Regions from separate parts of the Homo sapiens genome. Here region 2 is linked to region 1. The links come from fine-mapping of genetic effects on gene expression. A gene starts in region 1. The other region holds a variant in brackets. All regions are shown on one strand. Distances are from middle to middle. Region 1 holds the start of PHKA2-AS1 (PHKA2 antisense RNA 1). Region 2 overlaps PHKA2 (phosphorylase kinase regulatory subunit alpha 2).

Region 1 (4,519 bases):
AGGCGGCAGTGCAAGGAGCCACTAAGAACGGCTGCTTCATCTTCTGGCGTGAAGAGCTGCGTCAGCCGCGGTGGGTGCAATGCCCTCTCAAAACCTTCTCCCAGCCTGCTGGGCCACTTTCGCTCCAGATCTCTTGTGGCTAATGAGGGAAAGGGGAGCAGGGAGCTGTTGCCTGCACTTCCAGAAGGAGGGGAGGTTGGGGAGAGGCAGAGAGGGCCGCCTGGCCTAGATGGCTGTGCCTCTCTTGAGCCCAGGAGAGACTCCAGTACTTACAGGAACTCAAACGATCCCTGGTGACAGCTGGAGGAAATTATTCACACTGTCAAGAGAGAGGCTTATACCACGAACGGTTCCAATTCATTATTTTTAAATCCCCCAGCTGGCTAAAGAGTTAGAAGAAAAGATGTGACAATCATTTGAGTCTTGTCCCAGATGGGCTGTCACTCAAGGGCTATGAAAATCGAATGGGACTGGGCTGGTGGTCACAAAAACTGCAGGGCGCACTGGCAATTCTGCAGGGCTTTGCAGGATGGTGGAAGGTGGTCTGGTGGGCCATACTGGGCAGCAGTGGTGATCCAGCCCCTATGGCTCAGTAGCATTTCTACCCAAAGACAGAACATGTAATTAATTGTCCTACCTCCATCCCAGAGGTGGGTACCAGGATGGCTTCCATGCACCTGGGGTGAGGAGGGGTTGCCTGCACGCCCCTCTTCACTCCTGACACACAGCCTTCCTCAGGGGCAAATGTGCCTCTTGCGTCAGCTCTCCAGGGCAGACCCTGGCGAGGGCACAGGTCCTTCTTTTATGGGCAGAGGAAAGAAAAGCAAGCATTCCAGCTGGAGCGGACACTGAGTTTCAGATGTTTGGCATTTGAACCTCCTTCCTGTGTTCAGGGGATCCCCATGTTATGAAGTGGGGACCTCCACTTTGGAAGGCAGAATTCTCAAGATGCGGCTTTTTTCTTTTCTTTGAGACAGGGTCTTGTTCTGTCACCCAGGCTGGAGTGCAGTGGTGCAATCACGGTTCACTGCAGCCTTGACTTCCCAGGCTTAAGTGATCCTCCCACCTCAGCCTCTTGAGTAGCTGGGAAAACAGGTGTATACCACTGTGCCTTGCTGATTTTATTTTTTGTAGGGAGGGTTTCACATTGTTGCCTAGGCTGGTCTCTAGCTCCTGGGCTCGAGACCTCCTGCCTAGGCCTCCCAAAGCGCCAGGATTACAGGCACAAGCCACTACGCCTGGCTGGATGCTGTTTTTTCTAACCTCTCCCTCAGCCGAGGCAGTATGCTTGCCTGAGACCTTGAAGTGGCAGCTAGTGGCTGTTTAAAATCCCTTTTGGTGACAAGTAGAAGCCTCTACATTTAGTTTCCAAAAGAGCAGAGGCAGTGGTCCCAGTGACAGTGCCCAGCATTGGGGGTGTCTGTGGTGTAAGTCCTGGGGTATGAACCTGGGAGTACTGGAGAATGACATGGGATCTTGGTCCTGGCTAGGGAGCCGCTTAGCCTGGTGACCATGTGACCTATCCAATATTGTTTAATAAACTTCCCACTTAACCCAGCCACAGTTGGTTTCTGTTGTTTGCAAATGAACTTCGAGACAATGGCAGCTGGTGGCACAGAGATTAGAGCCAGTTACTGGGATTTCTCTTTGGCAAGTCCATCCTGGGTTTGCATCTGGGAAGATCTTTCACAAAAGGAGATGTGGAAGGCACAACCATCCCCTCGTGCCCAATTCAGATGCAGCTTACCCTTTGCAGAGCCTGGCACCTTGGCTATGCCAGCTGCAGGGGAAAGGGGTGGCGGCCACCTGCAAGGGTTGGGCCAATGCTGCACAGGATTCGGGCTCAAGACACCAACACCCTGCTAGGCCAGCGCAGGGAACACTCACCACGGGAGCCTAGGGGCTTCCTCAGGGGCCTTCAAGCACAAAAAGAGATACTTTTCACCCTCCCACCCCCCAACCAGGCTGTATGCCTGCCTGGCCCTCAGTGGGCATGGCAGAAATGCTAGGATTCGTGTTGGATTCATGCATTTTTCAGAATAGTTTAAGGACTGCACGAAGACAGAGGGACGAATCACATGACTTCAGAGTTCATTGGTTCCAACTATTCCAGCTCTCCTGAGAAGGCATGTTTTGCCAAAAGTGCACATATGTTCCTCTAAAGAAAACCATGGTAGTTTTTTGATGGAATTTTTTCCTCTCCCAGGCATCGTCAGACGTGCCCAGCACTCGACTGCAGAGCAGCCTCTCTCACAGTTTCCACTCTCATTTCTCAAAGAACTCTCTTGGTACCTCAAGGCCGTGGCTTTCCTAAGTGGCTTTTTGAGGGAGACAGCAGGGACTGGGCTTTAAGGGGGCCACAGCGCAGCTTTCTTTTCCCCTCACAGGCAGAGCTATCAGTAGCCACGTCGGGTAGAACAGAAGGCATTCTGGGAACGCGGTGCTCTCACATCCTGCAAAGTACAGGCCTGCAGAGCAGATGGCAGGGACTTCAAAAGCTAAGTCACCTTGAAAGATAATGGCACAAAGGGCGATTGGGGGTGGGGTGGGTGGGAGGCTTTTGTACCCTTTTGCAACAAGGAAGCAGAAAAGACAAAAGCTATTTGCCAGCCTGGTGCGGGAATCAACAGAATAGAGAGATGGTTCTGCTGCAATTTCCATCAAGGGTGGCCAAGCCTCCAGTCTTCTTGTCCAGAAGTAAGTGGCATCAACCAACTCTGCCAAACTGCATTTCCTGCCTCCTGATCTGGGGTCTTTTCCTTTTCTTTTTTCACACAGGGAGTATTTCCATCCTCTCTGTCCAGGCAGCTGAGCCTTGACAACCTCTCCTCCCCTTCACCATGCCCCGACTGATCTCCTAATGGAGCCCCACCCCTCGAGTCCCTGGGCCTGTGGAAGGTAGGGTCTCCCCCTCCTCCTCATCCTCCCCCACTCCACTCCAGGTGGGGTTGCAATAGGGCTTATCTGGTTTCCTCTAAGCATGAAGCCCTTGACCAGAGGAGGAGCGGGAGTTCACGTCACGCCCCCATGCTTAGTCCTGGCCTTTTGCATTTTTTGTGGATGGGTAAACTGAGGTACATAGTGGTCAACTCATGCCCAGGATCACAGAGGCACTGGCAGGGTGGCAGGAATGCTGAATTCACCTGATGAGAGCCAGGGACAGCAGCGGGTGGGGCGGTGGCTGCTTTTCAACTGAAGTTGTTAAAAGGAATGCTTATTCCTGGCCCCACCGGCTTGCCCTCCAAGGCAGAACGTGTTAATACCGAGCCCCAGCAAAGGTTCAAATTGACTTCTTGGCTCTGAGCAGGGAGGTAGAAGTTCCTGCCCCCGCCACCCCCGGCTCGAGGCTCCAGGGGCTGCCAGGCTCCTCTCGCCTGGCCTAGAAACAATCCCCTCCTGCCACCTCCACGCAGGTGCTGTCAGGACAGGCCCTCTGCCCTCAAACATCTGCTCCTCTCCTCGGGGAGGGGGGCCTCAGCTGCGCGCTGAAGGGGCCAGGCCTCAGAAGCCTGTTCTCCTTTGAAGCTGACAGCTTGATGCCTGTGGAAATGCGGTCCTATTTCAGGATTTCATTTTAAAGAGGTTTCAAAGGAGTGGCTGGAAGGCTTGGTGGAATCGCTTATTACGGCTCCTCTCCCGGCCCGCAGCTTGGTGGCTGAGCACGTCATCATCATTGGCAGGCAGGTGACTGTTCTAAATTAGCACCTGGCTCATTCTGGAGGGCTCTAACTCTTCCTGAGCTTTTTCCAAGAACAACTTTCATGACTTATACCTTCTTATACCTTTCCCACGTTATCTGTTTGAAATGATCCACGGGGCAGGTGAATTACGTGTCATCTCCAAGACTCTTGTTTCTGTCGGGCATGTCTTAAAGACACACACACATGCAAAGGCTATGAAAATGCGACCCCCCAGACCTGGGAAGCTGCAGCCCGTGGAGCCTCAGGGGCAAAGGGAGCAAACTGGCTTGTGAGGGAAGAGCTGCTCTGGTCAGCGGCTGTTGTGGGATGGGGAGGGAACAGGGTGACCCAAGGGGGCAGGGGCCTGGTGCCATGTCTGCTCATGTGCCGCCCTCCTTGTCTCTGGGATCTGCCCCCAAAATGCAAGAAACGCGTAAGCCCACTGTAGCAGATATGGAGAGACTCCGGGGGATTTTCCTTTACCTAACTACTCTGCACCTCTGCAAGGGAGAGCATTATGGTTTGGAAGAAATGGAAACGGCATGGAAGTCCCATGTGGGCAGAGCCTGCACACCAAACCCTTCTAGACTGCAAAGGGTTTGACTCAGCCCAAAGAGGACTCTGCCAGGAAGCTGTCAGGCACCTGAGGCCACCTGCCTCTCCTCCGCTTCAGGAATAACCATCAGTACTGCATCTTGGCTCTGAGGGGCACTGGGCATCACGATGCCCACTCGAAGCAGCTAGGGCACGTTGATCTCTGCATCTCCATACAGATGTCCGAGGAAATGATCCCATAGCCTCATCTCTGTTTCAGAGGCAGAGGCAGAGTCCACCATAAT
Region 2 (4,000 bases), 29 kb after region 1:
GTGATAAGTGAGCTCTCACTCTGAGTTCACAAGGGATATGAGATCTGGTTGTTCAAAAGTGTGTGACCACTCTCTCTTGTTCCTACTGTCGCCATGTGAAGTGTCTGCTCCCCTTTTGTCTTCCGTCATGACTGGAAGCTTCCTGAGGCCTCCCTAGAAGCCAAGTAGATGCCAGCATCATGCTTCCTGTACAGCCGGCAGAACCCTGAGCCAATTAGACCTCTTTTCTTTATAAATTACCCAGTCTCAGGTATTTCTTTATGGCAATGCAAGAATGGGCTAATACATTTTTTTTTTTTTTTGAGACAGGTTCTCGTTCTGTTACTCAGGCTGGAGTGCAGTGGTGTGATCACAGCTCACTGCAACCTCAACCTCCCTGAGCTCAAGTGATCCTCCTGCCTCAGACTCCCAAGTAGCTGGGACTACAGGCATGTGCCACCATGCCTGGCTATTTTTTCTATTTTTTGTAGAGACAGGGCCTCACTATCTTGCCCAGGCTGGTCTCAAATTCCTGGACTCAAGCGATCTTCCTGCCTCAGTTTCCCAGATTGCTCAGATTATAGGCATGAGCCACTGTGCCTGCCCAGGTTTAGATTTCTCAACAGCAACACCAACACACTGATAGCAAGAAGACAATAAGTCATACTTTCAAAAATCTGCAAAAAAATGTCTTTTTTTTTTTTTTTTGAGACAGGGTCTTGCTCTGTCACCCAGGCTGGAGTGTAGTGGCACGATCTCAGCTCACTGCAACCTCTGCTTCCCGGGTTCAAGTGCTTCTTCTGCCTCAGCCTCCTGAGTAGCTGGGATTACAGGTGCAGGCCACCAAACCTGGCTCATTTCTGTATTTTTAGTACAGACAGCGTTTCACCATGTTGGCCAGGCTAGTCTCAAAGTCCTGGCCTCAAGTGATCCGCCTGCCTCAGCTTCCAAAAGTGCTGGGATTACAGGTATGAGCCACCACGCCCAGCCAAAAAAATGTATTTTTAATCTAGAATTCTATACCCAGCCAAACTCTCAAATGGGTCTGGAACATTTGTAGACATTTTTAAAATGGCAAGGTTTCAACAATTTTACCCACCGTGCGCTGTTTCTCAGGAAACTACTGCATGTCCTCTATTAAAATAAGAGTGAACCAAGAAAGAAGAGTTGGGATACAGAACACAGGAGAGCCATCCCAGGAGACAAGTCAAGGAAGCCTCCGGGGAAGATCCCAGGGTAAAAAGCACCTCAGACACTGAGGGCAACCAAGCCAGAAGGGGGCAGAGGGCAGTGCAGTTCAAAAACAAGTAAGTCGAGAGCTGTCACCACCATGCCCTCTTCCACTTCACTTTTTTTTTTTTGAAACCTACTGAAACTATTCTAGAATGTGCTCCACCAAAACAGAAGAATACATTGAGAAAGGGGAACACAGCAGATTCAGGAACCACGGAATCCAACTAAGGAGACAAGCCAGGGAAACTCCCAGGATGACACATATGCAACAGGCCTAGAGCGCAGTCAGCACAGATAGAAGGAGACTCGTGGACTCTAAGAAAGGCAGTGGAATTGAGAGATTCACCGATACGACTGAGCTTGTGGAAATTTGTATTGCGAGGCCACTGGAAGATGTAGAAAGAAAGCAAAGCAAATGAAAAGCCAGGG[T/C]AACTTTACCTTTCGAAAAAACAGAGTAAAAATGGGAATATAAACAGAGTATACTATAATGCTCAGTTGGAAATATTTGTGTACATACAATGATATAAAGAGTGAATACTGATTTAACTAAACTTTAACCCCTTGGTGGGTTAGGGGGAGTGAAGCAGAGGAGTGGTGATTTAAGACAGCCAGATCCTTACCCACTTAATCGAAAGTCAACAAGTACCGAATCAAGTCAATGCATGTGAAGACAGCAGTATGTACACATTATTTGAGAAATATGGAGATATGTACATACCAGAAGAAAGAGCTAAAAGAGTTGAAAGTGGTTACCTCTAAGTAGAAGCACGTGGGGGGCATTTTGTTGTCTTCTAGGATTCTTTGGCTTTTAAATTATGTCCCTGCATTACTTTGATAAAAGAAGGTATTTTAACAGGCAGAAAAGAGTTAATAACATACATGGAACTTCCAAACCCTTTGCTTTTGCCATCACAGAAAGTATGTCCCGCGTGGAGTGGATAGCACTGAAGACATGGCGGTCTTCTGTGTTCTTACAAAGAGGAGGCAGATAGGACCTCAACGATGTGCTTTGCAGAAGGTGGTTGATATAATGGTCAAGTTCGTCTTGGCTTTCTGTAATTGGACAAGCAAGAAAAAGAGCCAATGAAACCAAGCTGTAGAAATATGACTACACAATAGTGACCATGGGTAGCAAGCAGCACTGAGTAGGCTTAGCAGATGACAACACTGAGATATCGATATTTGCACTCCCACTCACCCCTGAAGAGTAAGAAGAGATTTACAGAGATAATGTATGTGTGTAGAAATTTGCTGTTTGGAAAAACTTTATCCCAGGAAAAAAAAACTACCAGTCAAGATAGTGTTTACATCTCGTCCTCCCAAGATGAACTGAATAATATGTAAGACAGCCTGAAGGATAGCAGCCGAAGTCTGGGCTTTTTGTTTTAATTTGTCATGAGTGAGCTAAGCCTTATGGAACTCCCAGCCCTAATTCCAACTACTATCTAAAAGTGAAAAACAGATCACCTCAAAACCTTATTCAGACTGACAAATGTTATATACGTAGGGTTTCATCACTCATATCCAACCAAACCTAGATCATTCTACCACTCCTTTGAAAATTCAAGCAGTATGTTTCTGTCTTCAGAATGTATGTATTCTGTGCAAAGTCCCCATTCCTGGCCAGCCACGGTGGCTCATGCCTGTAATCCCAGCACTTTGGGAGGACGAGGCAGGCTGATCAGTTGAGCCCAGGAGTTTAAGACCAGCCAGGGCAACATAAGGAGACCCCATCTCTATAAAATATAAAAGAATTAGCTGGGTATGGTGGTGCTTCCCTGTAGGCCTATAGTCTTAGCCACTTGGGAGGCTGAGGTGGGAGGATTGCTTGAGCCCAGGAGGTCGAGGCTGCAGTGAGCCATGATCATGCCACTGCACTCCAGCCTGGGCAACAGAGCAAGACCCTGTCTCAAAAACAAACAACAACAAAAAAAAAAAAAAAAAAAGAGAGAGAGAGAAGAAAAAAAAGAAAAAAAGTCCCCATTCCTGAAACTCTTTGTCCTTCTAGGTTTAAAAATGCCCCACTTTCAAGGACATCATTTGCAGTTTCGGTTTTTAAACGGGCATTTTATTCATTTTAATATATGCAAGTTTCAGAAGCCTCTTTTTTGTTTTTCCTTGTTTTTAATTATCAATCATTGTCTATATTTGAGTCTTAGGGCAATTTTATCACAATGCTAAAGTTTAAATAAATTCAGCGAACTACCCACAAAAGCATTCCAAGCTGTACCTTGATTACAGGTGTCTTCCAGATATCCTACCAAATCTGAATCACTATCAGGACTGAAAGTCCCTTCGCTGGCATTGTCAAACAACTTCTCATCACAGTCTGGATCCAGAAAAGTCAGATATGTGTAGAACGATGTGGTGAGAAATTCCGAAAGGTTCCCTAATTTTACTCTGCCAAGAAGACACCGTGTTAGGGACACAGGTAGTGTGTGGATAACCTTCCACTATGAATCACTGAGAGACTTTTGCACAACCATGTGGTGCTTCTGCCAGAATCAATACATATATCACTCTGCAGATTGCCCCATATAAGCGGTCAGCCAAGACATTCAAACAAAAATTCAATAGCAAGTATGAAGTGAACGCGCACAGCATATTAAAAGCCAAATGAATCACACTGACTTCTTACTCCCAACCCAACACAAATACGACTCTATTTTACTGAACCAACCAACAGTTTGACAAAATATATTGCGCAAACTACTTTTAAACAGAACCAACCCATGTTTTTGTTTTGTTTTTTCCCCCAAAACGACTGGCCCAGAAGCAGTGATTCTCT

What was found. PIP is the estimated chance that this variant, and not a neighbour inherited with it, causes the effect. A credible set is the group of variants that fine-mapping cannot tell apart.
Region 2: its variant is the best candidate, but not a certain one, in a credible set for the expression of PHKA2-AS1 in blood mononuclear cells (TOPMed, PIP 0.53).

Annotation. Positions count from the first base shown.
Region 1 is chrX:18,887,731-18,892,249 of GRCh38, forward strand. PHKA2-AS1 (PHKA2 antisense RNA 1) reads left to right here and starts at 2,566. Exons shown (of 3, transcript NR_029379.1): 1 at 2,566-2,898.
Region 2 is chrX:18,916,590-18,920,589 of GRCh38, forward strand. It overlaps PHKA2 (phosphorylase kinase regulatory subunit alpha 2), which reads right to left. Exons shown (of 33, transcript NM_000292.3): 18 at 3,443-3,612; 19 at 2,092-2,265. Among named protein-coding and RNA genes, the nearest start is that of PHKA2-AS1, 28 kb to the left of the region's middle. The variant T/C (reference allele first, on the strand shown) is at 1,642.